2 separate regions of the Homo sapiens genome follow, and region 1 is linked to region 2. Evidence: fine-mapped QTL for protein levels in blood plasma. A gene starts in region 2. The other region holds a variant in brackets. All regions are shown on one strand. Distances are from middle to middle.

Region 1 (15,916 bases), 92 kb before region 2:
ATTTCTGGTCTGTCCTTGTAAATTAATTATTTTATTTGAAATAAAAATCATCTGTTAAGCACCCCCCTCCAGCGCTGCAGAGAATACTACTAGAGGTATTTTAATTAGCAGGATTGAATTCAACTTGTAGATAATTTTAGGAGAAAATGGCAGTTTTACCTTTTTTTTTTTTTTTTTTTTGAGATAGAGTCTCACTCGTTTGCCCAGGCTGCAATACAGTGGCACAATCTTGGCTCACTGCAACCTCCACCTCCTGGGTTCAAGAGATTCTTCCTGCCTCAGCCTCCCGAGTAGCTGGGACTACAGGTGTGCACCACCATGCCCAGCTAATATTTGTATTTTTAGTAGAGACGGGGTTTCTCCATATTGGCCAGGCTTGTTTCGAACTCCTGACCTCAAGTGATCTGCCCGCCTCGGCCTCCCAAAGTGCTGGGATTACAGGCGTGAGCCACTGTGCCTGGCCCAGTTTTACCTTTAATGAGTCTCCTATGCACCAGGAATTTCCTCTTTTTTCCATTTTTGTCTTAGGTTACTTAATAGAGTTTCTAACATTTCTTCACGTAGGCCTGTGCATTTCTTGTTAAACATCCGTAGTTATTTTGAACGTCTTGGCATTTTACAGCTGAGCTCTCTTCTTCCTTTGCACGTGCTCCAGGCTTTTGTTTCTTGGTGGGAAAGCAGCTGATTATCGTGGAAGGATTTTGAGCCAATAGCCTCTGTGGGTCGGGCATGGCTGCCCCTCCTCGCTAAGCCTGTGTGGCTTCTTCATGCCTCACATGTGGATTCTCCACCCTCTCTGTGCAGGACAGGACTTGGGCAGGGGACACAGATGTCGTAGGGGTGTTTGAAGTGCCAGGAGGGGGTGTCATGTTTTCTGTTCATTTTTTTGTTTTGTTTTTTGTTTGTTTGTTTGTTTTTTGAGATAGGGTCTCCCTTTGTCACCCACGCTGGAGTGCAATGGTGTGATCTCGGCTCACTGCAACCTCCACCTCCTGGGTTCAAGCAATTCTCCTGCCTCGGCCTCCCAAGTATCTGGGATTACAGGCGTGTGCCACTGTGCCTGGCTAATTTTTGTATTTTTAGTAGAGACAGGGGTCTCACCATATTGGCCAGGCTGGTTTCAAACTCCTGACCTCAGGTGATCTGCCCACCTTGGCCTCCTAAAGAGCTGGGATTACAGGCGTGAGCCACCGTGCCTGGCCGATGTTTTCAATCCTAGACTAGCTTTCGTCCTTTCATCCTCATAGTATTAAAAGAAAAGTAAAATCCGGAGAAGTGCAAGGGGTAGGGCTGCGCTATCCTGCGGCGCCCACTTTCACCAGCTGCAGGGAGCCGCTGGCTTGCAGTGAGAGCAGCCTTTAGTAACTAAGGTTCCTTCCTTCGGCTCACTGGAATCAGCCAGAAAATACCAGCGGCATGAGTCATACATGGGTGCCATTCATCGTCCATGGGGCAGCAAAGGAGGCCATTGTCCCACCCCAGAGTGGGCTGCCCTGGAGGTGGGGTCCTCCCGTCCCAGAGGCTCCCGGCCCTGCAGCTTTCTCTAGGGTTCGGCTCCTTGGAGGCATCTGACTTGGCAGAGATGAGTGGCCGGTCTGGCCAAGCCCCCGAGATGGTGTTGGTCCTGCCTGTCTCCCTGTTCCGCCTCTTGTCTGACCTAATCCCTGGTTCCCCTCCCCTGACAGACACCCACCTACCCTGCTTCCCACGGTTCCCCGCACGGCACAGCCCAAGCTCTCCTAGCAGATGTTCTCAGCTGGACAGGGCAGGATTGTTGCCTTCAAACAACAACAGGCTAATTTTCTTTTCTCCTTTTAAAAAGCATCCATGTGCTCATAAGCAATGGGAGTGAATGAAGAGCCAGGCCCAGCAACAGAGGGGAGCCTGCCCACATGGAGCAAAAGGAGCCGGACACCAGATTCACCCACGGCGCGATCCCGGTGACGGAGGCAGTGTGAGCAGGCAGGCGGCGGCCACTCTGGGGAAGGGAGAAGGAATGAGGGTGAGAGGGGCACAGAGGGCCTCCAGGGAGACGGTCCTATTGTGCCTCTTCTCCTGGGTGTCTGTCACCTGCATGCAAACTTTGTGATCATTCACTGAGTCACGTTTTCTTACATGTCTCCTTAAAAACAGTTCTTAAAAGCTCCAATGTGTATTTCACTAAGATTCACTTTCCTGAGTTGTGAAGTCTGAACTGGGGAACATCTGGATTTCCAGGCCTCAGGACATCACAGACCACGTTTCACATATCAACAACACGACGCAGCATCGGTCAGGGTGGAAATTGAGAATGAAAACCTTTCCCAAAGGCCGGCCCAGAAGCAGGCCATCTCTTATCCTTGAAAAGTCCCCAAAGACTAGTTTTAGCATCTGAAACTCATCTTTCCCCTCCTAAATCTGAACTTTGTGTTGCAAGGAAACCTCACGTTGCAAGCGTGTGTGTGCCTTCTCCCGAGACCCAGAGCTCAGCCTGTGTCACACAGGGAGCCCTGTGGCTGGGTGAGGCTGTGCCCTCGCCGGTGAGAGGCAGCACTCCCTCCACCGTCCATCCTGGGTTGAGATTTCATTCTGCAGGGTGAGTGGAGTGCCGAGGCGCCGTGCCCTGGTTACAGGTTCCAAACTCACAGCTGCCTTGTCAAATGTCCCTGTCTCAGGCAGGAAGACCCTATGGTTTGATCTCTGGGACCCTTGTCTGTCTAGGACCCTGCTGGGGCCACCTGTGCCTTCTCCAGGCGCCGGAAGGGCAGGAGAGCCCCGCCATCCTATTTCCCAATCCCTGGGAAGAGGTTTGGTTGATGGGGAAAACTGCAGCGTGTGCTCCTTCTGGTGAGTTCTGCATTCTTTCCTAGTGAAGTATTGCGCATGGAAAACCAGAATATATGGTCAGCATTCTTCCTATAAACGGGCGATTGTACGCTGTACAAGAATGACTGAGCAATGCCTAGGGGGTGGCCACGGTGTCCCCTCCCCATCCATGTGGTCCCAGCATGGAACTGGGTGGCTCGGTACCCGACGGACACGTGGCTGCAGACGCGCTGTCTCGCTTCCGTATTTCCAGTGGGGACCTTGCCGAAGCGTGGCTGTCGTTTACGTGACCGTCCTGTGCCTTGGTGTTTCCTTAGCCACAGGGCCCCTTTGTCACATTAATCACTTGGGGGAAGTCCTGCATGTGAAGGGGACTGAGATGGGGATGCTGGAAGCAGGGGTGCTGGCGTTGCTGCCCGGGGAAGCCTGCCCACTGCCCTGCGTCCCACCTTGGCTGCTCCCTGTCCCAGAGCAGCCTCTGAGCCTCCTCAGTGGGCTCCCGGGGGGCTGCAGAAAGCTCAGGAAGGACTGGTTTCTCACTCCTGCTGAGCCGCCTTTGAGCAGATCCGTCTCCAACCCGTCTGTATCCAGGCAGGCTCGAGTCCACATGTGAGAGCCGTTTCAGCCTGAGGCTTGCCGAGAATGTGTACATGGGATTACTTTCTCACTGGCTTTCAGCAGACTCTCAGATGTTTTCCGAAAGAAAGAAAAGTTTGGCTCTGAACCATATTGAAAATCCCAGTCAAGAATTCCACACACATGCTGAGAAGCAGTTCAGCCTTTTTCCGCGGCTAGTTGACGTGCAGTTAATTCTTCCAACAGCCCCTGAAAGGGAGTCGATGAACAGTCAATCCCCATGGGTTTTGGACAACTGATTACAATCACACTCACCATATGTTAGAATGTGCCACGCGGACATGGCCTCCTCTTGCTGGGAATGGCCTGAGCCTCCGTGGAGTGAAAACTCACAGCCCTGCCCTGAGGGGCGATGCTCCGGGGACACCTGCCCCTGTCTGCTGAGATGGGCAGCAACGGGTGACTCCTCCAATGCCCCAGGGTGGTAAGCGGGACCTGGCAAAGCACCTGGCAGCCACCACCCTCTTCTTCCAGTTATGACAGACAGAGCCGAGGCCTCCACCACGGGCCTTCTCTCCCATTACACCTGGCTAGGGGCACCATTCATGTTGGTTTGGGGTCTTGCAACCAAAGTGTCTTAAGACGGGCTCTCTGGAGTCCTTGGAAATAGAGAATTATGTATGGGTGGTTTTGGGGAAACGCTTTTGGGACCAACACCTAAAAGGGCGTGAGGGGTGCAGCACAGGGCGGAGGGAGGAGTTGAGTGGTGACGCGGTCGTGAACTCGGGCGTCAGCCCGTCCTGTGGACGGCTCTGGAGCTGGGATTCCCTTTGGAGTTGTCCTGCGTTGAGGTAAGCGGGCTGAGCCTCCGGACCGACTCCCATGCGGTTTGTCCTGAGATGTGGCTGGGCCTGGGAGCGGGCGTGACCTCACACAGTGCAGCTCCCTTGGGTGCAGGGCAGCTGGCAGAGACTCTGCTGTGATCCGCCGGCAGCTCCAGGCCCGCCTGGAGTGACAGCCTTGGTCTTGAGGGTGGCATCTTGGGCACACGAGAACATTTGCTGCAGCCTCCTCACTTCCTCGAACACTCAGTTACTCTGCGAGAGCTTCGGCTGATCTGTTTTTCTGGGGAAAGGTAACAGAAGGGTTATGGGATAAACCACGGCACCCTCCACCCTCGCCCGGTTGCAGCCAGCCTCGTCATTTCTCCCCTCAGCCACCCATTCTCAATTCCCTTCACCCCCGCCTGTTGCCTCTGCTGGTCTGGCCTTAAGCTGGGTGACCCCCACCCTTGCCCCTCAGGTCAGTGCCCCGGTCACCAGGCCCTTCTCCAACCAGCTCTTGCATCTGTCCTGTCACCCTCACACATGCTTAGGGGTGTGCGCAGAGTTGAAACTGTGTTCTTCCCTCCCCTGTTGTGTGGCAGCAGCACCCCACCCCCCCACGAGGAGCAGGCCCAGTGACTCCGGCTAAGAGGCCAATTTCCCGCTTCAGTGACCATCTCCTTCTTACGCTGCTGGTCTGTTGGCGTGAGGAGCCCACAGTGAGCAAGAGGCAGTCAAGGGAAACTGGAGGGGACTCTTCCTGTGTCTCTGGGGACAGCAATGCCTTAGGAGAAACTGGACTCCTGGGCTCACTGGGCCCGACGTTATGAAGACAGGAAGATGAGCTCCCTCACCCAATCACAGGGGTGTGGTGAGTGGGACCTCCCCTCTCCCTTCCCTTGGCTCTTAGACTGGTGTATTCTACCCTCTGGGTGCACAAGGCCATTAGATGGTCAGGGACGGGTGTCTGCCGTTCTGGAGAGGGGCCCCATCCTCGCTGGCAGTCTATGTCTGCTACTGCAACAAAACGTCTCAGGCTGGGTCATCTGGGGGCAGCAGACATTATTGCTGACAGTACTGGAGGCTGGGAAGTTCAAGATCAAGGAGGCGAAGGAAGGTTCGGTGTCTGGGGAGGGCCTGGTCTCTCACTCCAAGACAGTGCCTTGAATGCTGCATCCTCCGGAGGGGACACGTACTATGTCCTCACATGGTGGAAGGCAGGAAGGCAAAAAGGGGTCTAGCTAGGTCCCTTGAGCCCTTTTATAAGGACACTGATCCCATTCATGGGGCTGCAGCCCTTATAACTCAATCGCCTCTGAAGGGCCCCACCCTTTAATACTATCACATTGGGCCTTAGGCTCCAACATGTAAATGCTGGGGGGACGCACACGTTCAAACCATAGCACTCACCCTCCAGCGGCCTGTCTCCAAGTCAGAGTCTTGCAGCCTGGTCAAAAGGCCCCTCTGTCACCCGTCAGGCCAGCAGCTTCTGGGTGGAGCAGCCCTGTGCTGGGACCAGCGCAGCCGGTGGCGTGCGGGTAACTCTCACCTCCTCCCAGGCCCGCTCAGGGACATCGCGCGCAGAGCCAGGGTTTGGAGTATCTGCCCCGGGGAAGTCGACTCGGCGCGTGCTACAAAGTGGGTCTGTTTTCTAGGATTTTGTTTACCCCAGAGAGCTAAGATTGTTAAACATGTACTAGCCCAGCACTGAGTATATCTCACTTTCTGTGCCAAGCAGTGTGCGCATGCTTGTGTGTGTGCCTGCGTGTGTGTATATGCATGTGTGTGATTAAACACGTGTGTTACTGTGTTTCAACCTCACTGCTATCCCGTCTCATAGGTGTCATCTCCACCGATGAGGAGGCTCAGGTGAGTCAGGTTAGGCCCCTCCCCAAGGCCACGCACTTAGGATGTGGCAGAGCCGTTTGAGCCCAGGTATGTCCGACTCAGGAATCCTCCTTCTTAACCGCACTGACTACCGTATGTGGACAGTTGTGTTTCCCTTCTGGCTTCAGTACCTTCTGTGGCTGGCACCCAGACCATCTCTGACTCTGGCTATCCGTAGAATCCATGCTTCCATAAGTCTGTTCTCTCCGGGCCCCTCGGGAAGCGGGAGATCCGGGAGATCCAGGGTGCCAGAACACCTTCTTGGGCTCTCACCGACTTTCTCAGGCAGCTGGAATTCCGGGAACCCTCAGGTGGGCACAGGGCCAGGCCGCCCCTAACATCGTGAGCATCCGTCTGGGAGTCTACGCAGCCGTGGTTGTCCCTCTGTGCCAGCCTGAGGCTGGGGGTGGGGATGTTGTGGAGGGAGCAGGCCATGGGTCACTGGAGGAGCTGAGGGTGCCTCATACCATTTCTTTTGGGGACAGTTTGCCTCCAGAGTCCTGGCAGGGGGTTTGTGGGAGAAGGCAGGGCCCCGTTACCCCACATCAGCTGAAATAAAAGAAACATGCGGCACACACAGTCAGTAAGACAGAGCCACCGAGGCAGCCATCTGAGGGAAAGTGACATTTTCACTGGGCTCTCTCACCCTTGCTGAAGGGCACAACCTGTTTTGTTTTCAGCTGCAGGCTGGGTGGTGGAGGCTGGGTGGAGAAGGCTGGGTGGTGGAGGCTGGGTGGTGGATGCTGGGTGGAGAAGGCTGGGTGGTGGAGGCTGGGTGGAGAAGGCTGGGTGGTGGAGGCTGGGTGGCGAAGGCTGGGTGGTGGAGGCTGGGTGGAGAAGGCTGGGTGGTGGAGGCTGGGTGGAGGAGGCTGGGTGGTGGAGGCTGGGTGGTGGAGGCTGGGTGGAGAAGGCTGGGTGGAGAAGGCTGGGTGGTGGAGGCTGGGTGGTGGCGGCTGGGTGGTGGAGGCTGGGTGGTGGGTGGTGGCGGCTGGGTGGTGGCGGCTGGGTGGTGGCGGCTGGGTGGTGGAGGCTGGGTGGTGGAGGCTGGGTGGAGAAGGCTGGGTGGTGGAGGCTGGGTGGAGAAGGCTGGGTGGTGGAGGCTGGGTGGTGGAGGCTGGGTGGTGGAGGCTGGGTGGAGAAGGCTGGGTGGAGAAGGCTGGGTGGTGGAGGCTGGGTGGTGGCGGCTGAGGCCTCTCTCTGAAGGTCATCCCTGGCAGTGGTGGCTGTGCCTGGGACCCTCTTGCTTTCCCTGGGGGCCTCCCGGAGGAACAGCTCTATGGTGTTTCCGACCAATCCCCTTTCTTTGGGTCTTGCTGGTTATAAAATGGGAATATTCATTTCAAGTGCCGAGCCAATGCATATTCTTTTCCCACCATCATAAAAGACTTGCTTCCTAATGACAATAACCTTCATTGCAGGCCGTCGATTGTCATCTCTGTTTGTTTTTCCACTCCACCTTCTCAGCTCCTGTGCCACCTCCCACCCCACGTCTTGTTGACTTCATGTTTATCCTTCACTCACTCAACAAGCACATGTGTCCTTAGTGATGCCCCTGCAGCCCCTGTCCCATCTGGCACTGTGTCATTCAGGTGTTCCCGCCTCCCCGGACACCTCCTTCGGCCCCCTCTCCTGGGTGTTCTGGACAACTGCGGCCACGTGTCTGCTTTGCTCCAACTCTGAGTGGTCTCAGGCAGGTCCTTGCCCCTCTGAGTTTCAGTTTTATTTATAATGTAGAGAAACGGAGAACTTGTTTCATAAATGATCCTCACCAATTCCACGTGGTGGCCCAGAGGGCTGTGTTGAGAAGGACTCTGAGGAGCAGCCCAAAATTGACAGGAGGGAGGGCTGACCAGCAACGTGTGTTGTGAGAACAGGAGGGAAGGGGGCCAGGTGGACACTGGCTCTTTGCTGTCCTTGGACTGGATGGTGCTTCAGCACCTGCATCTCTCCGCCTCTTCACACCTGTCCCGCTTTACATCCTCCGTGTGGGAGACGTCACACCCACCTTCAGTTTAGAGCTGGGGCCGCTCTGTTCCCCAGGGCCGCAGCTGCGGGGCAGAGCTGGTTGTCAACTGCGTGTGAGGGTGGAATCGAAGGGGTCCTCTGTGCTGGAGGACCCCGTCCTGGAGAAGCAAAAGGCTGAGTCGCTGAGTTTTCGGGTCTTGGCTCCCTGCCCATGGCCCCTTTTCCCAAGTAGAGACCCCAGTGGTCCTGGGAGCCGCCCTGCAGAAGCCCTGCCATGACCTGGCATCCTCCGCAGGTGAGGGAGCCGGCCTTCCACCTGGAGGGGGCAGAGGGCAAAGGCTGCAGAGCCTCCGCCGCGTCAGCCGCTGGTTGAACGGTCCAGGCGTGCGCGCATCCCTCGCAGCCGTCGACACACAAACAGGCTGGTCTGACGGGACAACTCTCCACTGAGTTCAAGCTCAACAGGCTCAGATGAGACCCACAGACCATTATGTGTTTACATCTGGAACTTTCTTTTTCCTGCATGTGGCCCCCTTCCTGCACAAAAGGTTGGTCTTCTTCATCTCCCAAAATCCATACGGCTTGGCATAGGATAGAAGCACAGACAATGATTTCTGCGATTGATTTATTTTCCCTTGTAACTAAATGCTGAAGTGACAGTAATATAAGCCAGCCCTAGGGGATCTAATTCAGTGTCCTGATTGATAGGACAGCAAACTTGGTCTTGCTCTTCATCTCAGGGAGCCCAGACTCCCCGTGGACAAGGGGCCGAGAGGTTTGTGCAGCCTTCTCTGCCTTGTTTCACGCCGGCCAGTGGCTGGTCTAGGAGGGATCCTTCCCCCACCCCCCACCCCAAGTCTATTTCAGACCCACCTCCTGCTGACTCTGCTCCATC[G/A]AGAAGAGCTATAAATCAGCCTTCCTTCTGGGGTGATTATAAAAATCACTCTATTAGCAGTTGACTCACAGTCTAAAAATGTGCTCATGGCATAGTTGTGGCCACTGAGCCTGGTTCGGTGGGACAGGCCCCAAGCCCCAGCCCGCGCCTTTCTGCAGGAGGACTTCCCTTTCCAAGCACGCGCGCTGCCGCCAGAGCCTTCCGGCCGACCCGCCGCGGTGCCCTTCCTAGCGACGGCCTGTGATGTTCCTTAGCCACGGGGCTTGGCCCAGACCCGCTAGAGGGGGAACGAGGGAGGAAGCCATCTGGGGAGGAATCAGAGTTCAGACGAGAAAGGAAATTGCCCTGAGATGATTGAAATGGCAAGGAGAAGGGAGAACCTGGCCAGTCCAGCTGAACAAGCGGATGTGGGGTCGGGGGTGGCCTGGGGTCCCTGTCCTGGCTTTGGGTCTCCCTTGTACCCATGTAGTACTAGTACTACTACTACTCAGTGACCAGCTCTGCTGACACTGGGGTCCGGCGGAGTCTGAGGGACTGGAGGGAGGCTGCCTTGTCTTCTTCCACCTCCCTGGGTGCCAGCTGGGTGGGGCAGGCATGGAAAGCCCTCTGCAGATGTGCAGGTCCCCCAGGAACAGAATGGGGGTTCTAGGTGAGTGTGACCGGGGGCTTCCATGTAACCCCACTACAGTGACCTGAAAACAGGACCAGTAACCCCAGATCAACCGCCAGCCACACCCTGGGCACCATCTCCCCCAGAAGTCCTTTGGTGCCCCAGGGCCAGCACCTGCTAAGGTGAGAATTGGGACCACCTGTGCCCATGTCCCTCAGCCATGCTTGCCCTGGCTTGTAGCTCCCCAGGACAGGGCTGGGCCTTTGCCTCGGGTGGGGTCCCTGCAGCTGGCTCCGTACTGCTGGCCACACCTCAGGACTTGGTGAGCCTTTGAACACTAAGTTCTGAGCTCAGGGGGCTCAGCATTTTAGACTTTGGTTTTGCTGACACTCCTGACCAAGTGCACTTTCCCCTCTGCAGAGCCAGACTGTGGCTTTTCCCTTTTGGGCAGTGGAAGGGGCGGGCCAGAGGCTGGGTCAGGGTAGTGGAGAGAAGAGCCCCAACCAGCTGTGGCCCGTGATGCAGTGCCTGGGGCTGACCCGGGGCTCCAGCTCAGCCTGGGCCTCAGCCGCGTCAGATCCCCACCAGGCCTCCTCCTGGGTCCCAAGGGGCTTCCCTGCTGTCGGCAGTACCAGCAGCTGCAGTTTGATTTGGGGCAGAAGTCAGGGTGGGCTGTGTCCAGAGAGTCACCCTGAGTGGCCTGTAGGCACAGCATTGCTCGGAGATGGCGCTCACCCAACCTTCATGCAGCAGGCACTTCTTGAGTGCCCAGCATGTGCCAGGCCTGGCGCGGCCCGGCTGGCCCAGTGCGAGTGTGGACCAGCCCTCCTTGTTGGGACAGGCAGGCTGGGGAGAGGAGAGCAGGGGCCCGAGGCCGGCATTCTGCACTTTCCATCCCCTCCTCCTGGGCTCCCCGCTTCCTGGGAGGTCCGGGCAGGAAGCCGGGCAGAGCCCACCCCCATGCTCTCAGACTTTTGACAAGTGCTCCCCTTGATGCCAGGCTGTGACGGTGAAGACGCCACTCCCAGCAAAGTCAGAGTGATCTTCTTCCTGCCTCCCCAGGTTCTCCAGCCCCTCAGTGCTCCCTGGGGAATAGCAGCTCATCAGGGGTGCCGTCCAATCCCCAATGGGGTTTCCTGTGCGGCTCTGGAGGGCTCTGGTTCCCTCGGTCTCCAGAGAAACATGTGAGGACAGCGATGGTTTTGCAGTTTCTGGCGCCGCCCGCAACACAACTCCAGGTTAATAAGAAGAGAAAGCCTCTCCTTTCACTTTCTTGCCGAATGCCTTTCCGGGCAAAGAGAAGGGGAGGAAGAGGAAGGCTGGGGAGGGGGAATTCATTTCCCAGCAGGGGATGGGGGCTGTCAGCCCTCGGGGGGCCTGGGTGGGTCTGAGGGAGACACAGAGCCTGGGAGTCCTGCAGGCCTGGCGGAGTGAGCAGGGGGGTGTGGGGGCTGGGAAGGTGGGGAGACAGGAAGGCACTTCAGGGGACCCAGGTGGGCCGATGCCCTGTGGATGGAGGGCACTCCGGAGGCCCAGCAAACAGAAAGCCAGAGATGGACAATGCTGGGAGGCGGGCGTCTAGGGTGTCAGGATCTCTAGGCTGCCAGGACGTAGAGGAGCTATGAGCGGCACAGCCCGCTGGGGTTGGTGGGAGGTGGCTCCGCAGGGGCCTGTCACTTGGGCTTGAGAGAGATTTGGGTTCCAGACTGCCTTGACTGTGACCTTGCCCTGGGGGTCAGTGCCTCATCCGAGAGATGGACTGACTCCCCCTGCTCTGCGCTCGTCACCTGCTGGGAGGCTCAGGTGAGACGGTTTGGGTGACAGCAGCTCGGGTGCTGAGGTGTCCAGTTCTGCAGGACTGAGGAAGCGCCGCTGTTGTGGACGCCGCACCTGCCTTGGGCACTGTCTGTGTAGAGCGCTGCCCAGGCGGAGCCCTGGACTGACAGGGCCCCCCTTGCTCTCCTACCCATCCAGACCAGCAAACAAGCCCTAAGGTGGACAAGTGCCACAGCGACTCAAGGGCACCTCCATCGTGGTCCACACAGTGAGCCTTGCCCCCATCTATGCCATGGCAGGCATCACCAGCCCCTCCCTGCACTCACAGCATTGGCCTCCTCCCTGCTCGGCTCTGCAGCCAGCCATGGAGGCTCCACCCCCAGGCTTGCAAGGCAACCTCCGCTGGCTGTCCTGGCTGGGCCCTCCATGGCCTGGGCTCTGCGGGCCAAGCACGAGCTGACCTCTGTCTCCTGAGGACAAGCGTGCTGGGTGGGGATCAGAGGAAGATCGCCTGAGAAGGCAGAGGAGGTCTCACTGGGGCATCTGGGGACCAGACGCGGGAGGCTGAGCTCATCCACATGCTGGGCCAGCCGCTCTCCCCAAGGCCCTGGAGACAGTCTGAGCCCAGCCAGGGTGGGGCTAGAATCATCCAGATAAGCCCAAAGGCTCAGTGGTCCACAGATGATGGGTCCAGCCATGCAGAGTGGCTGGTGGCTGTGCCAGGTCCTGGGTTCGTGGATACTCTGGGCACAGGAAGCCTGGGAGATCTCAGGGAGGCCCCTGAGGATAGCGAGGTGGGTGGAGGGCATCATAGCATCCCAGCACCCATCCTACGCTGTGTGACCTTGGGCAGCTCGCTTGCCGTCTCTGGGCGGCTGTTTCCCCATTTCTGAGTCTATCGTGTTCCTCAGTGGTCACTGTCTCAGTGGATGCTGCCTTCTAGGCCAGCAGTTGTTAAAACCGCACAGCTGCAGGGACGGCTGAGGGAACAGGACCCAGTGATATGGAAACATGTGGGAAGGCATTGCAGGAAGTCATGGAAAGAGCACAGGAATTTTCTCTGAGCCACAGAGCTGGGCAGAGGGGGCAGGGCATTTTGAGAACCTTTGATAAATTACTTACCATGTTCTGGAAGGAAGGCTCTTAGAGCCAGCTGGGGCTGCAGGGGAAAGCTGACCCATGTGTTTCCCCATGGGAATGGGAGACCCACAGGAGGGTAGGGACTTGTCGAGGGTCCCAGGATGTTGGCTCCGATTGGGAGGCCCTAATTCCAAAAAGTAAAGGGCAGGGTTCTCTCCGAACCCGCCTGCCACCTGCAGGACTGTCTCTGGGACATGCTCCTCCCTGAAAGGAGTCTGGGCTCACAGGGAAAGGTCAGGAGTTGGTCATTGGACTGTGGCTGATTGGGGGCTTCCTGGAGCACCCACTGCATGCCAGCCCTGTGTCGGGGGCGGGGGGGAGCCCAGGAGCAAGCCCAGCAGTGTCTGAGCTCTATGGGGGCCCTGCCCACCCATCGGAAATGGTAGGTGACCTCATCCTGTCAGGTACCTGGTACAGGGCCTGGGGTGGAGGCTTCAGCATGTCTCGGGGACCCACAGAACCGCCTTGCTGCAGGCACTGTCTACTGAGCTCTCACCTCTCACTGCCTCTCTGAGTCCATTCAATAGATCAGGCACGGCAGGGCATGGTGGCTCACGCCTGTAATCCCAGCACTTTGGGAGGTCGAGGCGGGCAGCTCACCTGAGGTCAGGATTTCGAGACCGCCCTGGCCAACATGGTGAAACCCCACCTCTACTAAAAATATAAAAATCAGCTGGGTGTGGTGGTGGGCGCCTATAATCCCAGTTACTCAGGAGGCTGCCACAGGAGAATCGCTTGAACCTGGGAGGCGAAGGTTGCTGTACGTGGAGATCGCACCACTGCACTCCAGCCTGGGTGACAGAGCAAGACTCCATCTCAAACAAACAACCCCTGAAAACACCAAATCAGGTAGCTTTTATGGCTGCTTCTCCCAGATGAGCAGATGGAGACCCACAGGGGCAGCTTCCACCTCTCCAGTTTCCATGGCGAGTGAGGGGCACCGCAGATTCAAAGCCAGGGCTGCCTGAGCCCACAGCCGCTTCTCCCTACCAGTGGGCTCTGTGCCCCACTCCTGCCAAACCCTCAGGGGTGCCTTGGGCTGGACTTGGGCAGGGACCTCTCGTCAGGGACCTCTCGTCAGCGGTGGCTGGGAGATGCAAGGGAAAGCCTTCCAGCTCAGCTGGGTGTGGAGTCAACAGCGTGTCCAACACTGCAACATCAGCCCTGTGCCTGTGGACTGCAGCCCAGATGGCCTGGCTCTTTCTATACATTCTGTGTCTGCCTGAGATATGCGCTCTGCAAGGAAACAGATTTGCTCAAGAATGCTCAGGGCCCTGGAATCCCCAGTGAGGAGATGTTCTAATGCAGCAGGAAGCGAGCAGGCTGGGCCGTGGCCGCACGCACCATGATGAAGAGGCCGGGACCCTGGCAGCTGGCTTTGTGGGATAGACACTGGCTCGCAGATGTGCGCTGGAGACAGCAGGGGCCTCGGTGTGGAAACAGTAGGTGTGTCAGAGGGTGGACGCTTCCTCCTTTTCTCATCCCATAGCCAGGTTGCTTCTAGGCCGTCACACTGGGAGTGCTCAGCCGCCATATGCAATCAGGTCCCTGGCATGTTTTCTGTCTTTCCTGTGTTCATTTCTTCCTGGGAACAGGTTGCTGCTTTGTGGGGTGAGGGTGATGGTTGACGAATCCTCTGTGGGAATTGCAAGAGCATGCAGGGAAGGTGAAAGCTGCTTTGCATGGTCCCCGGGGTGTGACTCCTCTGGCCCAGTAAGCATGGCAGATGCACTCACCTAAGCAACTTTGGGAAACACAATTCTGATGAGAATCTGTATGACTACAGGAAAAGGCAACCGTGCTTCAACACTGCACTCAGCGCAGATATTGCTCACGGGAGGGCAGGTTACCGATCCTGAAGCTGCCGTGCGTGTGTACAGGGATGAAACGGCAGCTGGGCTCCTCGTTCTTGGCGAGGGAGGTTTTGAATGAGCAAGGATGCGAGGCTGGAATCAACCACAGGCACTGGGGACGTCACTGTGAACACCCATCAGCGTCCTGTAGCTAGAGGTGGGCGGGTATGGAAAGAGATCTAGCTCTGCATGGATACGTGGGCTGTACACAAACTTCCTAACCCCATCTGCTGAGCGAGACTGAAGCAAGGGTGCCTCCGCGGCAAACACTCCAGAGCCCAGATCTCGGGTTCTGACTCTATCCTCCAATCAAAGGGAACAGAGCTCCTTGGGGAGGGAGTAGACACACGAGATGGGAGCACTGTGTAGTGCCAGAAAGTAAAGACGGGCTCAAGGCCGGGCATGGTGGCTCATGCCTGTAATCCCAGCACTTTGGGAGGAGGAGGCGGGCAGATCTCTTGAGGTCAGGAGTTCGAGACCAGCCTGGCCAACATGGCAAAACCCCATCTCTACTAAAAATACAAAAATTAGCCAGATGTGGTGGCACGTGCCTGTAATCCCAGCTACTCGGGAGACTGAGGCTTGAGAATCACTTGAACCCAGGAAGTGGAGGTTGCAGTGAGCTGAGATCGTGCCACTGCACTCCAGCTTGGATGACAGAGTGAGATTCTGTCAAAAAAACCCAAACTGCCCCCCACCAAAAATAAGTAAATAAATAAACTCAAACAAACTCAAAGCAAAAGGATGGGGCACGTCACAGGGCCAACCTGAAGGAGCTCCCAGTGGCCAAAGCTGGAACAATTTGAGCAAGATATGGATAATGAGGTATTGGGGTAGAACCCAAATTATTATAAAATAAACACCCGTGACTCCACAGTGACGTAATAAATTATTCAGTCAGTCAGCGAATGGGGAGGAGAGACAGGCCCCCCGCACAGAAGAGCTCTGCTTTACGTAGTTAAGCCTCCTGCCCCACCCAGCCTGGAGTGTGGGCTGCACTTCGTGACTCCTTTCTGGAGAGGACAGAATGGAAAGGAAAAGGAAAGAACTCAGTGGTGGAGAAGCTGGCATGTGCTGTCCCTGCCAGGTGATCAAGGTCAACTCCGTGGTGATAAGTGATGTTGAGACGATGGGACTGCAGTGGCGCTTCCGTTCCACGGTCTTGCTCCCCAACACCCGTAGCCCCGGTGTAATCCAGAGAGAGACACCAGACACATCTCAGCTAGGAGACACTCCACAACAGACTTGACTGAAACACCTTCAAACTGCCAAGTTCATCAAAAAGAAGGAAAGTCTGAGACGCTGCTGCAGCTCAGAGGAAGCTAAGGAGACATGGTGACCGAAGGTGACATGGTGTCCTGGAGGCTCTCTGGGGACAGAAAAGGACATTGCGGAAAACTGGCGAGCTCAGAATAAAGCTTGAAGTGAATAGCACCAAGGCCGGTTCAGTTAATAACATCCCATTGTTGGTCTCTCAGCTGTAACAAACACACCATCGGAAAGTAAGATGTTAAAAATGAGGAAAACAGCGCAGAGTCCACTGGCACTCTCCGTACTGTCTGCAATTTTTCCGTAAATTGAAGCC
Region 2 (15,916 bases):
GTGCCCGGCACAGTCTGTGTGTTATCTCGGATAACCTCCACAGCATCCTATGCAGGGGTGCACTGCGGTCCCCACTTTCCAGAGGAGAACCTGAGCCAGCGTGGGGAGGCTGCAGCCTCAGGCCCCTTGCTGAGGCAGACTCATATCCAGGACGCCGCTTGCTCCAGATTCTGAGGTCATGCCTGCCCTCACCTTCGTCGGATGGTGGGAAAGCTTCAGTGAGATCCCTAGGTGGGGAATCGTCACAGACACCCTCAAAAGCTGTTTCACCAGGGTGATCTTGTTGACTCCCGGGGAACAGCCCATTGAGTGGGAGGCATCTCTTTCCACCTATGCAGATGGTTCTTTAAAAGATTTAATAGCGGGGACCTTTCCAACTGACATTTCTTTTGGGCTGTAAACTCAACCTTTATCTCTAATATATTCTCCTGGAGGATGACACGCCAATCCAGGCCCAGTTTGGAAATGTGCCTTGGCACACTGTGGCCCGAATTAATTGCGAACTCACTCTATATATCTAAAGTCTGTTTGGTGTTCGTCATGGGCTCTCTCGCCTGGAAATTCCATTATTTTGCAGGGTTTACTTGGCACCTGATGGGATATCCAGGTCCAGTAAAACCAGGCCTTCGTGGACATGACATGGAAACAGAGCTGTGCCGCACAGCGGAGCGGGGCCAGTGAGATGGGAGGGCCAGTGAGATGGGAGGGCCAGGCGCAGCCAAGGGACAGCCAGGCTGTTTCAGCCATCGATGTCACGGCTCCATCCCTTGGTGATTTATGCTGCTCTGTCCCTGGGCTTGAAGGAGGGGCAGCCCCTCAGCTGCTGAGAGCCCTGCTTCCTGGCCCTCCATCAGACCATGATAAAGAGCATGAGCCGCCATGCTTGAGAAGCCGCCATGATGAAAAGCGCCTCCAACCTCCAGCTGCGTGTATATGTTTGATCAGATGCCAGGGCCAGCTGTGTCTGGTCCTGCTTGTGTGGCTTGATAAATTGGGCTGGGGGTCCTGGCACCGTGGTGTCCCGGGATGGGAGCTCTGGGAGGAGAACAGCTCCTCTGCTGGACTCTGGGTTGGGGAAGGCTGAGGGTTGGGGAAGAGGAAGAGGCTTCAGCTTCACAAAGTGGTAGAAGTTCAGGTGCGGGGGAAGGGCTTCAAGTAAACCACTGAGTCAGCGGATTGCATTTTCAATGGAATCATGGGGCCTGGAGTTCACTGGACCACAGCCTGCCTGGGTTCTTCCCAGCTCACTCCTCTCACCCCCTCTCACCCCCTCCCACCCACTCCTACCCCCTCTCACCCTCTCTCACCCCCTCCCACCCCCTCTCACCCACATCTAGATGGAGCACAGGCTGCAGGCTTGGACTGGGGAGACTGGGGTCAGACCCACGGCTGCTTCTCCGGAAGCAGAGGTATACACAGATGTGACTACACAGTGTCCCAAGGCCTGTGCCCCCACCTACCATGCTTGACTGTGTGCCCCAAGCCACACCTGCTTCTGTGCCCACCTGCTCCAGTGCACACCTGCCCCATGCACACCTGCTCCAATACACACCTGCCCCTGTGCACCACTGCTCCCATGCACACCTGCTCCCAGACACATCTGTCCCAAAGACTGACTTATTCACATGCACACCTTCATATCCAGAACAGAATGTGCTCCTAACAGGCAGCATGGGCAGGGGCACCTCACTCACAGAAAGGGGAGGGCAATTTGCTGTGGGGAGGGAAGCAAAGAGAGGAGACTCTGGAGTGGGCTTGGAGCCTTTTGGAGGAGATGCTGCATCTGCACTGGTGTTCTGGGCCCTCCAGCTGGCCCCACTCTCACACCCATGGTGGACAGTGCCACCGAGGAGAGGTTCAGCCTATGTGCTAGAGGGACAAGGAGACAGGGTGGTACACATTCATCAGAAGCCAGGGTCCCCTCTCACTGGCCAGGGTCCCCTCTCACTGGCCAGAGTCCCCTCCCACTGGCCAGGGTCCCCTCTCACTGGCCAGAGTCCCCTCCCACTGGCCAGAATTCCCTCCCACTGGCCAGAGTCCCCTCTCACTGGCCAGGGTCCCCTCTCACTGGCCAGAGTCCCCTCCCACTGGCCAGGGTCCCCTGCCACTGGCCAGAGTCTGCACCCCTCACCCCTGCCCCCGCCTTGGGGTGTGAGAATCCACAATAAGAGAGCACCTAGGTGGGTAAAAGTCTCTACTGTGCCAGAAAACAGAGCCCCTCAATCCTCAGATTTCTGCTAAAGGCCCACGGACTGGGACTGTTTTGCAGGAATCCAGTTTTAGGGGGATGAATTGTGTCCCCCTAAAATTCGTACATTGAAGCTTTGCCTCTCAGAATGTGGCTGTGATTGGAGATGGGGCTTTTAACAAGATAATTAAGTTTAAGTGGGATCATTAGGGTGGGCTCTCATCCAACTGACTGGGGTTCCCGAAAGAAGAGGAGATGAGGACGCAGACACACACAGAGAAATGACCGTGTGAGGGCATGGGGGGATGGTGCCGACTGCAGGCCGAGGAGGGAGGCCTTGGCTGAAACCAGTGCTGCCGTCACCTCAACCTCGGACTTCCAGCATCCAGGACTGTGAGGGAATAAATCCCTGCTGTCTAAGCTGCCCCATCTGTGGCACTCTGCTGTGGCCGCCGAGCTGACTCACACACCCGGGAAGCCTGGTGACCTGGGGCATGGCCCCGGCCCCTCTCTCACCCTCTCCTCTACTCTCCACTTGGCAGACACAGGCTGAAGAAGGCTGCAAAAACAAGGCAATGAAGGACATGCTTTGTCCAAGGGCTTTAAAGTGGCGGCCTTCCCCAAGTAATTTTTCAAAGAGAGTGCTGGCTTGAAAGGGGCTCCCTCCCATCTGCCCCGCTCCAGTACGTAGGGAGAGTCCTGCTGGCTCTGTGGGCACAGCGGTGGCCTCTGGTCTGCTGAGAAGCCACAGCTCACATGGAGCAGTGGTCAAGGCCAATGGGTCAGAAGGTAAACTAGGGCCAGTGGGGGTCTGGGCCCCTGGAACCGGCAGGACATGCGGTCAGCCGCGGGCCGGCCCTCGGACCCGGCGCCTCCTTGGTTTGCTCTGCTGCTGGTGTGCAGGCTGCACGGTGGTTAAGGGCTGCGTTCCGGGCTACTGGGTTTAGCCACACCCTTGCTGTTCAGCCTCCAGCAAATAGTTTCACCTCTCCGAGCCTCAGCTTCCTCCTGCCTCAAAGGGTTGTTGCTCCATTGAATGAGATGATGCAGGTAAGCAGGTGAAGCCCTGGAAGGCGGCAGGGGGCTTGGAGGAGGCAGAAGAGGATGAGTGCCCAGCGGCAGGGAGCAGGGAGGGAGGGGACTGTGGCCAGGCCTCCCTCACCTACCTTCTCATCTGAGCTTCACAGGGACCCCCCAGCGGTCAGTTTCTTCACCGCCCATTCACAGATAACAAACTGAGGCTCAGAGACAGAATCCTCTTGCCCAAGGTCATGTGGCTAGTGGCTGGTGCTGCTGGGATTCTAACGGAAGTCTGTGTGACTCTGGAGTTGGCCTGGTCCCAGGACATCAGCTGAAGGACACAGCTGCAGCCCCAGGTGCCGGATGCAGGTTCAGAGCATTCTCCTTGCGCAGCTAGAGGGAACTCCTCCCCTGCATGGGACAGAGTGGGGCAGCTTCCAGCCCCTCTGCCAGGCCGTGGCTCACCCAGGCCCTCCTGGGCCCACTTCAGCAGTCTCTGGACCATAAATGCTTAGAGGGCAAGCAGATATCTGCCTCCAGGCACTCCAAGAAGACCTTGTTCCTCCACCTCCTCCATGGGTCTAGGAGAAGAAGAAGGGACAATCTGGCTGCCCCTCAAGGCCTTTGTCTTGGGAAGCAGCTGGCCATTTTCCAGCCAGACGTGACTCTGGGAGGCTGGTGTGACCCCTCAGGACTGGTGGTGAACCATCAGGTCCACATGAGAGCAACACCTGATGGTTGCCATGGCCGCTCTGTCCGGACCACAGCTCTGCCGCTCGAAAAATAAATGAGAGGAAACACAGCCTTGGAAGGAGAAGTTGGGCCATCGGACTCCACGTGTAAGGTGCAGGGCACCTGGCCTGCTCCACTCTCTGCTAGGCACTGTGGGAAACACGCAGTGATGGGTGGTGGCGCTCCCGGTGGCCCAGGAGTACACAGGGTACAGGACCTGGTTAGCCTTCTGCGGTGAGTGCCATGAACAGGAGCAGGCAGCCGGGGAGGGCTAGATGGGAAACGATGGATAGCAGAAGACAAGGAAGACACACATGCAAAAAAGGGGCCACCTCTGCATGGGCGTGGGAGTCACTGCTGCATTGCAGGTCAATGTGGAAGGGACCCAGGCACCTTGCTCACCACATACTCCCTAAAGCCTAGAGCGGTGTTGGCAAGGAGTATGCGCGCAATAAGCAGTTTTCCAAGGACTCTGGTTTTGCTCAGTTGTGGGAGGGCATGGAACATGGTGAGTTTGGGACAATCTGCACCAGTTGCTGTTGTCTGAATCTGGGCAGGGTGGTCCTGGCGGCAGGCGTGTGGTCCGGATGCCATGGGGAGGCAGGCAGTGCACACTGGGCTCCAAGCATGGAGACCTGGGTCCAAATCCGGACCCTGTCACGGATGAACTGGGTAAGTCCCCTACCCTCTGTGGCCCCTGATTTCCTCATCTGTGGATGGGAGAGATGCCAGTATTCCCTACCGGTGCATGAGAACTGATGCACGTGTGGGTGAAGAGTGTGAGGCAAAAGCCTTAAGATGTGGCTGATATTCTTAGCTTGGCAACACAGTTCGAATCCTGATTGGTACTGCCGGGCCATTCTGCCATAGTCCCTGGCTGACACATCAGGCCGCCAAGTTTGGGGACTTCTCTCTGAGTTTCCTGGTGGGATAGAAACTCATCTCTCCACCCAACTCAAGGCTCAGATGAGGGTGGAAACTCACATTTGACAGCTTTCCAAGCCACCGCACCACTTGCTCTCCAAGAGAGGATAAAGTGCATCTGTCATGGCTGCTTGAGCTGCAAGACTGAGCCATCTTACCATTGCTGAGAAGTCAACTTTTGGGGGACCTTGGGGTGGTCACTTGAGTGTCAGCTCTTAAGGCGCCAGTTGTGTTAATTCAGGGCAAAGTTTAGATGCTGGCTGTGAGTTACAGGAGGGCTTGCTGACTGGCACGGATGTGCACATGGGACTGTCAGAAAGGAACTCCACTTGTGCTTGGGGAAAAAGAAGCTGGAACCAGAAAGCCTCCACTCTCTTCTGATAACCAGGCCATGGCCTGTGTCAGCACCCCTAGTCTTCAGGGGTGAAGCTGGCCTTGCTGGTAGGGGCGGGGGCACTCCAAGGACCAAGCACAGCTGGGGCTGGCGCGGAGTCTGGGGTTTGATGGAATTTCTCACTCATTGAAGTCCACAGGGAAAGTAAAGGGCCAGTGGCTGCAGGTTAACCAACGCACAGACACGCACACAGGCACACACACAAACACACACATGCACACAACTCACACACATTTTTGCCTGATCACATATGCCTTATACAAGTTGTAAAACAAAATAAAATCAACAAGGAAACAGGTCAGAACTAACATTTGCTTTACTGAATGTATCTCAAGCACCTCCCCACGTCTGTGTGTGAAGAGCTTCTCATTCTTTTCCTGCGAAATATTTGATATCTATGCAAGCGCATGTGGCAGATATGGAGACTAAAAGCCTCATCACCAAGTTAGCAACAGCGACCTATCACCCAGCTCCGGAGCCTGCCATGGCTATCCTGGCAAACCTAACCTCGGACGCCTCTCTCACCTCCTGTTTCCAGAATGGTGAGAATTAAAGAGCATTTGGGGAATTTCACGCCCAGTCTGGAGATGTAACTGGAGAGGGGAGTCCCAGCCCTGTCTGGCATCTCTGGCTAAATTGTTTGTTCAAAGGGAATGGGGATGGCCCAGGGTTTGCAAATCGTTCTTAATTCATTCTGATTCCCTCCTTTTAAAAAACTAGCCCTGCAGCCCTTGGGGAAGGGGTGTGGGTCAGGCTTCAGGAGGCTGTGCAGGGAGGCCAGGCCTGGGGAAGCTGGAGGGAGAGACGCCCACCTACCACCCAGAGACTGGCGGGCCTCCTGCTGGAGGAGACCCCGAGGGGCTTAAAGAAGCCAGGCAGGAGAATCAGGGCCCCAGCTCTTCTCCGAGAGCAGCCGATCAGGAATGCCTTCTCCCTGCGCCAGCTGTCACTCCCAAGGGGATGCCTTCTTTGGTTTCCTTTTTATTGCAGAGGGGCCACCAGGGAGTGGGCAGGAGTGAGGGGTGAGAGCCTGGGGGCCGCAGAGCCAAACTTCGCCTGATTAATAACCCAGATGTTCCCGTCCAAGCACATGGAGGTCCCGGGAGCTCTTGGGAAGTCAGACCCCAGCTCGGTCCCGTGCCAATCTGCAGTTAGGAGGCAGGTCCTCGGTCCGGGTTGACACGTAGGCCACAGTCTTGGGCGCCCTGATCTGGCTGGATGGGAAGTTTAGTCTCCACCCAGAAGAGGAGCTCTGAACTCCTCCACGTTAAAGAAAAAGTTAGGCGGGGTAAACTGCAACTTTCTTTTTAACCCGAAGTGATCAAACCTCGGGGCCCCTCTGCACTGGTTCTTGGAGCATGGCCAGGTGCGGGCACCTGGGGTGGGAACAGTGGGGGGACCAGGGTGGGCCCCTGGGCTCCGAGGCCGCCCCAGGCCCGCCCGCCTACCGGCTCTCAGAGAAAGAACAGGGGGCCGCGCCCGCCCCACGTCCGCTCCGCCCCGGGCCAGCCCCTTCCTCGCTGCGACTCGCCCGCTGTCCCCACCCCCTCGCCCGCGGCGCCCAGTGGGAGGCGGGGGCTGGCCTCGCCGAGCCCAGCGCCGGGCTCTGATTTGCTGCGGGCGTTGGGGATCGACAGCCTCCGCGGCTGCCTTCCAGGAGAGAGGGAGGGAGGAAAAGGGGGAAAAAAGTGCTCCGCGCCGAAGGCGAGGTCCGCACTCTCCGTCCCCGCGGCTGGCGCAGGACCTCACTCGAGCGGAGCGCCCACGGGGAGCGGGTCGCGGGGCGGCGGCGGCGAGGAGGAGGCGAGAAGGAGTTGGAGGAGGAGGAGGAGGAGGCGAGGGCGAGCTAGCCCAGCGGGGTCCCGGCCGCCCCGCGGGCCAAAGTCGAGCCCTCCCGCCCGTGGGCGAGCGCGCCAGCCGCCCCTTCCAGAACAGCCGCCGCCACAAAGAAGAACGGGGGGTGCCGAGGTCCCCATGACCTCCTAAAGTGGTGCGGTCCCTGCTGAGTGCGCTGCCCGGGCCGTGACCCGCGCCCCTGTGCGTCCCCGCGCGCCTCCGAGCGCCCCTGTGCGCCCCGGCCCGCGCCCCGCCGGCATGGACGTCCATACCCGCTGGAAAGCGCGCAGCGCGCTCCGCCCGGGCGCCCCGCTGCTGCCCCCGCTGCTGCTGCTGCTGCTGTGGGCGCCGCCTCCGAGCCGCGCAGGTAAGGGCGCCCCGGGGCGCGGGGCTGCGGGATGGGGCGCGCGCAGCCCGGGCGCCGCTGTCATCCCCGGGCGCCTTCGCCCGCAGAACTTTTCTTCCTTGGCCTGTGGAATGCACGGGCCAAGACCACGAATGCCATTTGCTGGGGGCCCCCCCGAGATGACGACACGCAGACACAATGCCCGCGGGCGCGCCGCCGCCCCCTCCCCAGACGGGCGGGTCGGGTGGGGCTGTCGCGCGAGCCGAGGAAGGACCGAGGGCTGGATCAGCAGGAGGGGTTGTCCACGAGGCGGGCAAACTTTTGTCCCAAAAACCTTCCTTCTCTGTCCCACATCACAGGCGCCCAGCTTGGGCCCTCACAGCCCTACAGCAGAACTTCCTCTGCTCCAAACCGGGCAGGGCCGCCCCCTAGAGTTACAGCCCTTCAAATCCCGGGACTCCTGGGGATGGGGGGAATCCCAGAAGCCTGGGCCCCCAGCACTGAACTTCCCCCAGGCACTGTCACTCTAGGCTGAGCTGGCGCCCTGCTTTCCCCAGGGACAGCGTTTCCTGCAGCCTTGGTCACCTAAGTGTTCGGGGGCACTGGGGACCCCTGCAGGGTGGTAGACAGCCCTGCTCCTAATCCCACCCCCAAACTTCTTGATCCCTGGAAGGCAGCTTTTCCTGGATTCGCTGCTGAGAGATGGGATGCGTGGAGCAAAGCCAGAGATGGGCTTGCAGGCGGGGCTGTGAGTGGTTGGGATGATATGCAGATGTGGGATTCCTTCTGCCAAGGGTCAGCCCTTAGAAGGAGGCTTGCTTCCCGGGGAGGGCGCTTCAAGGCGGGGACTGTCTGCGTCCCTGCCTGGGTTCTCGAGGGTTCAACTCTCCCTGGCGCAGCTTCCTGACGGGGGAGTTTTTCTAGGCATCGCTCTTGGTAGTTAGTGGCGGGGTGGGTTTTCACAGACTCTCGAACATCAGAGCCCCCAGCCCTGGAAGGTCCCCCGAATCCTTATTGACAGGCGGGGAGATGGAGGCTCAGAGCTGTGTGCTGCCAGGTCAGGAGAAGTGGCGGGCAGAGCGATGGGACGGTGGGCTCAGCGAACGTCTGGACCAGCCCGCCGCCTGCCAGCAAGAATGCTTCTCTCTGCTTCACGATTGGAAGACAAGTGGGAAGAATCATTGTCCGTGTTCCGCTTGTCAATTAAAACACTCTTTTCCTTTTTCCCTGGCACGATCAGTGCTTGTTGGGCTAACTGGATGAGCTGGAGTCTGGGTGTGGGGGCTGCCCTGGGGCTCTGGGGGAGGAGCCAGGAGCCTGGCCTGGCTCCCAGGACCTGGGATCTCATCCCTGGGCCGCCACCAACTCTCTCCTGACCCTGGGCTAACTGGGCTTGTGTTTCTCCAGGGGTTAGCTGAAGGTGGGGGACAACAGAGGTCCCCAGAAAAGTGGAGAGGAGAAGGAAGGTGTGGTCAGGGACTGTGCCATTGCCGGGGGACTAGGCCCTGTCTCAGCGCCTCTGGGGACTTTTCCCCAGAAACTCAGGAGGGAGTCCTTCAGGGGAATCGTCACCCTAGACAGCTGGGGCAGGGCACTGCCTGGGGACCATGCACCGGACTGGGCTTGGGGTTCCATTTCCCTCCCTGCCCATCTCCCCACCTCCACACTGTCTTTTTCCCTCTCTGGTTGCCCTCGCTAATCGAAGTGCGGCTCGTTGGAAGTGGGAGTGAGGATGGCCCAGAGCAGCAGGCTATGGAGTTGGACATTTTGCTTTTGTCAGAACAGACTTTTAGAAGCATGTGGAGAGACCACTTTTCTTAGTGAGTTTTGCCAACGTCTCTCCACCTCCCAGGGTGGGACCTATTTGGAAGTCATCCTTCGAGCATGGCCAGAGGGGGCGGCTGTCCACTGGAGATGCAGGCGCTGGGGGGAGGGGGCGGCTGTCCACTGGAGATGCAGGCGTGGCGGGGAGGGGGCGGCTGTCCACTGGAGATGCAGGCGCTGGGGGGAGGGGGCGGCTGTCCACTGGAGATGCAGGCACTGGGGGAAGGGGGCGGCTGTCCACTGGAGATGCAGGCGCTGGGGGGAGGGGGCGGCTGTCCACTGGAGATGCAGGCGCTGGGGGGAGGGGGCGGCTGTCCACTGGAGATGCAGGCGCTGGGGGGAGGGGGCGGCTGTCCACTGGAGATGCAGGCGTGGCGGGGAGGGGGCGGCTGTCCACTGGAGATGCAGGCGCTGGGGGGAGGGGGCGGCTGTCCACTGGAAATGCAGGCGTGGCGGGGAGGGGGCGGCTGTCCACTGGAGAGGCAGGCGCGGGGGGGAGCCACCAGCAAGTGCCTGCTGTCTTCTCCATCTTCGGATCTGCCAGATGTTTTCTGAGGGTTTTCTGAACACAGTTCTTTTGCCTGCTTTCTTTTGGCCAAGTGTGTGAAGGAATGAAAAGTAAGATTGCATTTGGGGCTGCTGAACAGTGTAACGGGGAAGGAGAGTATGGGAAATGAAACATGACCCCAATATTTGGAAATTGAGGTCATCTCCTCTACACGCCATTGGTTGACTCCAGTCACGTGATTGCTTTTTGCAATAATTTGTGGGGAGAGTCGGCCAAGTTTTGTGAGACTTGACAGGTATCAAATGGTTAAATTTCCTCTGACTCAATCAAGTTGGCTGGAAAGACATCCTTTTCCATCCTCTGCCCCCTCCCTCCCTCTCCCCATAAAAGAGCAGTGAGTGGGAGGAGCTCAGAAGCCCCAAGAATTCCCCAAGCCCTCTCCCTGCTGTGGTCCAGATTTGCCGGAGGGGTTGGAGTTTTGGTTGCTACCCAGGGCTGTGCCCACCCAGCAGTGCGGCAGCCCCAGGCAGGGGCGTGCTCCCAGTGCCAGGCTCACAGTGGTTTCTCCAGTGATGTTACTCCTGGGCTGCTCCTGCGGGGCTGGCCAGAGCCTGCTCTTCACCCCGCCCTGCAGATATTTCTGGACTCCCCACCGCCACGCCTCAGCCGAACACAGCTGGTGCTGCCCGTCCCGCCCTGCCTTCTCGCTGCCTGGCCTGTCTGCCTGCCCTGCCTCCTCCCTGGACCGCCCCATCCCACCTCCTGGGAGATAGACCTTGATAGGTGGAGTAGGGGCTGTGCAGAGCAGTGAGCTGCCCCGCTGGAGGGCGAGGATGAGTCCCCAACACTTCCCGAGGGCACCCACATAGGAGCCTGAGCCAAGCTGCATCTGGAACAGTGCAGGACCTGTCCCTGCTCGGTCACGTGACGTGGCTCTGGGAATGGCCTTGGGAGACAATCACACATGGGAATGGAGGGGCTGGCACTTGCCTGGCCTGTGGTGAGCATCAGCTGCACCATCTCACTGCACCCTCACCCGGGCCTGAGAAGGGACAGAGCCTAGGAGTCAGGGGGCAGGGATGCCAGGCAGATGTCTTCCATTCCTGCTGTGGGGCCCTAAGCCAGCAACGGCCCTTCGCCTGGCATGGTCACTCTTTGACTTGTCACAGTTCCCTCTTCTCACTTCCCATCGGTTTATCAGCTCTCCCCGGGGAGAAGGCCAGGGCCCTGAGCTATAGTCCTGGCCTGGGGGCCCAGTCCAAACAGGGTCCTGGGAGCAGAGCCATTCCATTTGGCCAACACAGCTTTTAAGTTCCTTTCTTTCTCCTTCCCCCTCCATCCTTCCCTCCTTCCTTCTTTCCTCCCTCTCTTCCTCCCTCCCTCTCTCCCATCCCCTTCCTTCCTTCCCTTTGTCCCTCCATCCCTTCTCTTTTTACTCCAGTGCCTTCAAGAGGGATGCAGCAGCCACAGTCTCCACCACTTCCCAGGCCTCTCTGCACATCAGCATAACCTGCCTGGACCCTGAAGGCTTTTGCCTTTTCACCTGGGTCGGGCCTATCTTGGGGAGACCGAGGCAAATGGGATGGGACCCCTCGTTTCCTTCCAGGAGCTCACAGTCTGACAGGCAGACCATTGTGAATTTTACTCAGGGCCCTCCATGGGATGTGCTGGGTCTTGCATCCGACAGTCTGGGAGGGTTAATTGCACTGGGGAGAGCTGGGGAGCTTCCTGGAGGAGGTGATGTGAAACTGGCCTTCCCTCCTTCTCTTCTCCTTCCTTTTATTGCAGAAATGACCCTCCTTCGTGGGGTCCTCCTCCACCTCTGGCTTTAATCTTGCTCTCTTCCCTCCTTCTGACAGGACATTCCACACCGTGTCCCAGAGCTCTCCTGGGCGGCTCCCTTGGCTGGAAAGCCCCTCATTCACGGGCTTGGCAGGTGCTCCCAGTATCTGTTTGCCAGGAGAATACAAGTGCCCCTAAGGGAAGTGGCAGATCCTGGCAGCTTCCTTAACCCTTTCTCTGCCCCCGTTCCTCCTGTTTCCCTTTGACGAGCCCTGCTGGCCTGGCACAGTGAGCCCAGTCTGCACAGCTCTGCAGACAGCTCCACAGCTGTGGATTAGGATGTGGGGGCCTCTGGGGGTGATTTTGGGTACCTGTGCTGGGTGACAGGTGGTCGGATGTGGGAGGGGACATTCCTTGGCAATCAGATTACTGAACTCCAGGCCAGCAAGGTCGGTGTGAGGCTGGAGCTGAGTTTCCCTGCCTCTGAGGGGCTGTCGGATGGGCTGGGCGAGGACAAGTCACTGCACCTCAGCTTCCCCTCGTGAACATGGGGAGAACCACATTTCTTGCTTTGAGGCATGGTTGTGAAGATCGATTGAGGCCACACCTGTGAGAAGCTTTGCAGGCTGCCTGACCTGTACTCGGCACTGGCTGTGTGGGGACGTTACCATCGCCCCCATCTTCAGTGGTGGTTTTGCAGGAGGAAAGAGCAGTGTTCCCACAGCCCTCTTTAGCTCCCAGAAGCACAGGCGAGGGAGGTGTGCCTGTGTGGGGCCTGGCCCTGCTGAGACCCCTGGGGCTCTGCTGTTGCCCGCTTAGCCGGTCTCTGCTGCCCCTTTGCCTTCCTTGGCCTCGGTTCTTTGCTTTCCCACGGAACCTCATGGGGTCATTGTCCAGGCCGTGGGGTGTGATGCATGTGAAAAGCTTTAGAAGCCAATTCCAGGGTTTGCACTCATGTGTGCGTTTGTGTGTATGTGTGTCATGTGTGCGTGTGTGTGTGTGTGTGTCAGGCCGTGTGCACGTGTGGACAATGTGTATATCTCCCCGCGATCTGCCTGCACACATGTGTTTGTGGGTATACATGTGTGTTTGAGTGTGCACGCATGCGCATCCTTGCACATGTACCTGCGTTCACATGGGTGTCCCTGGCTGACTCCACGTGCAGGGCCTGGTGTGTTTGAGGAGCTCGTGGCAGGGCGACGTTTCTCTCCTTACCGTGACCCGGCCCCAGCTGGACGGGAGAGGAGGAGATGGCACGTGGAACCTGCCGGTTGAGCGTGAGGCTGTGGGTTCTGCCGCAGGGCAAGCCGGGTCCAGCTGGATCCGACAATTTCATGTCTTTTTAAACTCCCGGGAGGGCGATGTTACATTATGGCTCCCGCTTCTCCTCTATTTACATTCTCCCATATAATTGACTCGTCTGCTCTCTCTCAGTGCTTTGCCAAGTGTCGGTTTTAAAGTTTCTGGCCTGGCTGGTGGATGTGCCTCGATCCTGCAGGCGGAGCCCACAGCGGCCCTTGTGGTGGTTACTACTGAGTGTCAATTTGATTGGATTGAAGGATACAAGTATTAATCCTGCGTGTGTCTATGAGAGTGTTGCCAAAGGAGATTAACATTTGAATCAGTGGGCTGGGGAAGGCAGACCCACCGTTAATCGGGAGGGCACAATCTAATCAGCCGCTAGCAGGTGTAGAGCAGGCAGAAAAACATGAAGAGACGAGACTGGCCCAGCCTCCCAGCCTACATCTTTCTCCTGTGCTGGACGCTTCCTGCCCTCGAACATCGGACTCCAAGTTCTTCAGGTTTGGGACTCGGACTTGCTCTCCTTGCTGCTCAGCTTGCAGACAGCCTATTGTGGTGGGACCTTGTGATTGTGTAAGTCAGTACTTAATAAACTCCTATATATATATATATAATATATATATATATATTTCTATTATTTCTATTCCTATTAGTTCTGTCCCTCTAAGGGAACCCTGACTAATACAGCTCTGCTCATAGGCAGGACTGCAGGACTGCAGCCACCAGGACATGGCATAGGGACCAGGGTGGCCTGCTGGCAAAGGACAGGCAGCCGGCAAGACTCCTGGATTCCTATCCTGGCTCCAGTGTCTACCAGCAGTGCATTTTCCCACCCTGTGCCTCACTTTCCCCATCTGTAAGAAGGGGGTGGTGACTGTAACTACAGTAGGGTTTTAGTGATGTCTAATGTATTACTCATATAAAGCACAGAGTAAGACCCCATTACTGCCCTTGCCACCAGGGGCCCCAGTGCAGCAGGAGGCTGTGAGGTGGTTTGGGGCCCTCTACTCGCTGGCCTGTGCGTGCTCCCTTGCCATCCTGTGTGGTGTCACACTGCTGCTTCCCTCACTGGGTACGCAGGAGAAAAGGTAAGGCAGTAAGCACCAGTGGTCAGTTCAGCGGATCGCTCGCTGCTCGCTGCCTCTGAGGCTCTGAGCCTGAGCCAGGAAGGTGCATCCTTGGGCAGTCGCGGGCCAGGCCAAGTTCAGCCCGCAGAGTGGCCCTCCCCTGCCTCCTCTGGCCACTTGCTCTTTACAAGGAACGGAGGTCCAGGAGGTGGATGGACCTGTGCACCTCCCAGCTGCAGGCCTCTGTTCTGTCTCTGTGATGTGATGGCGGTGAGTGGTGGCTGATCACTGAAAGGAGGTGTTCCAGGCAGGGGTGGGTGAAGTTGGTGCGGGCGGGGTGTGGGGGGGGCTTTGCCATCTCAGATGTTGTTTTTGTGCCAGCCCAGCCCCAGGCCACTGGAGAGAAGACCGTGGAATGAATGAATTGGTGGCTGGATGCTCAGTGGAGGGGTGCGGGTCACTTTGAGTTATCCATGTCAGATAGTCCGAGCCGTCACACCCTCAGCTTCCTATCAGCAGAGGAGTTTTTCTGGAGGAATCTCAAACTAGGTAATAACCTCATATTAGCAGTAAATGTCACCATCCTTTGATGACTCAGACCTAAGAAATGGAACCACAGCCTGACCCACTTTTCTCAAAATTTAATTACTCAGAGCTCTGGGGACATGGGCTCAGCCTATTTGCCGAGATGTCTCTGCCCATGAAATGGAAGCTTCCTTTATTTTCTGTTTCCTAGACCCGTGTTCTTGTAGGGAAATTAGCTCTTCTGTCCTTTTCTTCCTTGCCAGGACCTCGGCAATAGGGTTTCTGGTGGCCTCTTTTTTTTCTGTAAATAAATGCCACAAAATGACATAAAAACAGTGTGGTGATTCCTCAAGGATCTAGAACCAGAAATACCATTTGACCTGGTGATCCCATTACTGGGTATATACCCAAAGGATTATAAATCATCCTACTATAAAGAGAAATGCACACGTATGTTTATTGCGGCACTGTTCACAATAGCAAAGACTTGCAACCAACCCAAATGCCCATCAATGATAGATTGGATAAAGAAAATATGGCACATATACATCATGGAATACTATGCAGCCATAAAAAAAGGATAGTTCATGTCCTTTGCAGGGACATGGATGAAGCTGGAAATCATCATTCTCAGCAAACTAACACAAGAACAGAAAACCACAAACACCACATGTTCTCACTCATAAGTGGGAGTTGAACAATGAGAACACACGGACACAGGGAGGGGAACATCATGCACCAGGGCCTGTTGGGGGGTGGGGGGCTAGGGGAGGGAGAGCATTAGGAGAAATACCTAATGTAGATGACAGGTTAATGGGTGCAGCAAACCACCATGGCATGTGTATACCTGTGTAACAAACCTGTGCGTTCTGTACATGTATCCCAGAACTTAAAGTATAATAAAAAAAATTTTTTTAAATGTGTGTATGTAGCAGGAGTGACTTAAGTTGAAAAACTCTGACCCTTGCATTGGGAAACAGTGATCTCCCAGTGAGAACACATGAGCATCGTAACCGTCTTCCATTGGAAGCGACCGTCTTCCATTCTGCTGGCGGGTGGCCTGGGGGACCAGCACTCTTTCCCGTGTGTGGGTACAGAGGGAACAGATGGGGTCCATATGCAAAGACATTGGGTGTGTCAGCAGGTTTGCTTGGCAGCATTTATGGACCCCTAACATGAGACGGACCTGTGCGGGGGGCACAGGTGAGCGATAGGCGAGCCGTCTGTGCCCTACTGGGTCTTCCGCTGCGGCGGGGGAGTCAGCCATCTGAACAGGTGGTTTTACCCAGTGAGGTGCAGTAGAAGTGGGAGTAGGGTGTGGCCAAGGCCAGTCTAGGGAGGCACCTGCCAGCCCCATGGGGCGGTGGCCAGTCAGAGACCAGCCTGCTTCTCCAGGGCCAGCCCTTTGGGATGCATGCGCCTGAAGGCAGGCTCCCATTGGTGGATGCAGAGGGCACGTTCCCGTGCA

Direction of the effects. Alleles are on the strand shown, and positions count from the first base shown. The strength of an association depends on the size of the effect and on how common the allele is.
In carriers of allele A in region 1, the plasma level of the protein whose gene starts at base 6,968 in region 2 tends to be lower than with G alone (weak association).

The links. A credible set is the group of variants that fine-mapping cannot tell apart. PIP is the chance, under the fine-mapping model, that this variant and not a neighbour inherited with it causes the effect. Protein levels are from antibody-based Olink assays in UK Biobank. Linkage for the fine-mapping came from a reference panel and not from the study's own genotypes, which makes the PIPs less certain.
Region 1: its variant is the best candidate, but not a certain one, in a credible set for the plasma level of the COL5A1 protein (UK Biobank, PIP 0.65).

What each region holds. Positions count from the first base shown.
Region 1 is chr9:134,543,098-134,559,013 of GRCh38, forward strand. It overlaps LOC100506532 (a long non-coding RNA gene), which reads left to right. Exons shown (of 3, transcript NR_188441.1): 3 at 1,823-2,166. Among named protein-coding and RNA genes, the nearest start is that of COL5A1, 91 kb to the right of the region's middle. RefSeq lists enhancers at 2,158-2,923, 9,812-10,333, 10,334-10,854, 11,718-12,320. The variant G/A (reference allele first, on the strand shown) is at 8,953.
Region 2 is chr9:134,634,836-134,650,751 of GRCh38, forward strand. It overlaps COL5A1 (collagen type V alpha 1 chain), which reads left to right and starts at 6,968. Exons shown (of 66, transcript NM_000093.5): 1 at 6,968-7,461. The coding sequence starts at 7,353. COL5A1-AS1 (COL5A1 antisense RNA 1) reads right to left here. Exons shown (of 2, transcript NR_138049.1): 2 at 14,550-14,749. LOC124902300 (a long non-coding RNA gene) reads left to right here and starts at 13,219. Exons shown (of 2, transcript XR_007061842.1): 1 at 13,219-13,429; 2 at 13,556-15,371. RefSeq lists enhancers at 7,947-8,653, 9,909-10,493, 12,476-13,275, 14,000-14,499.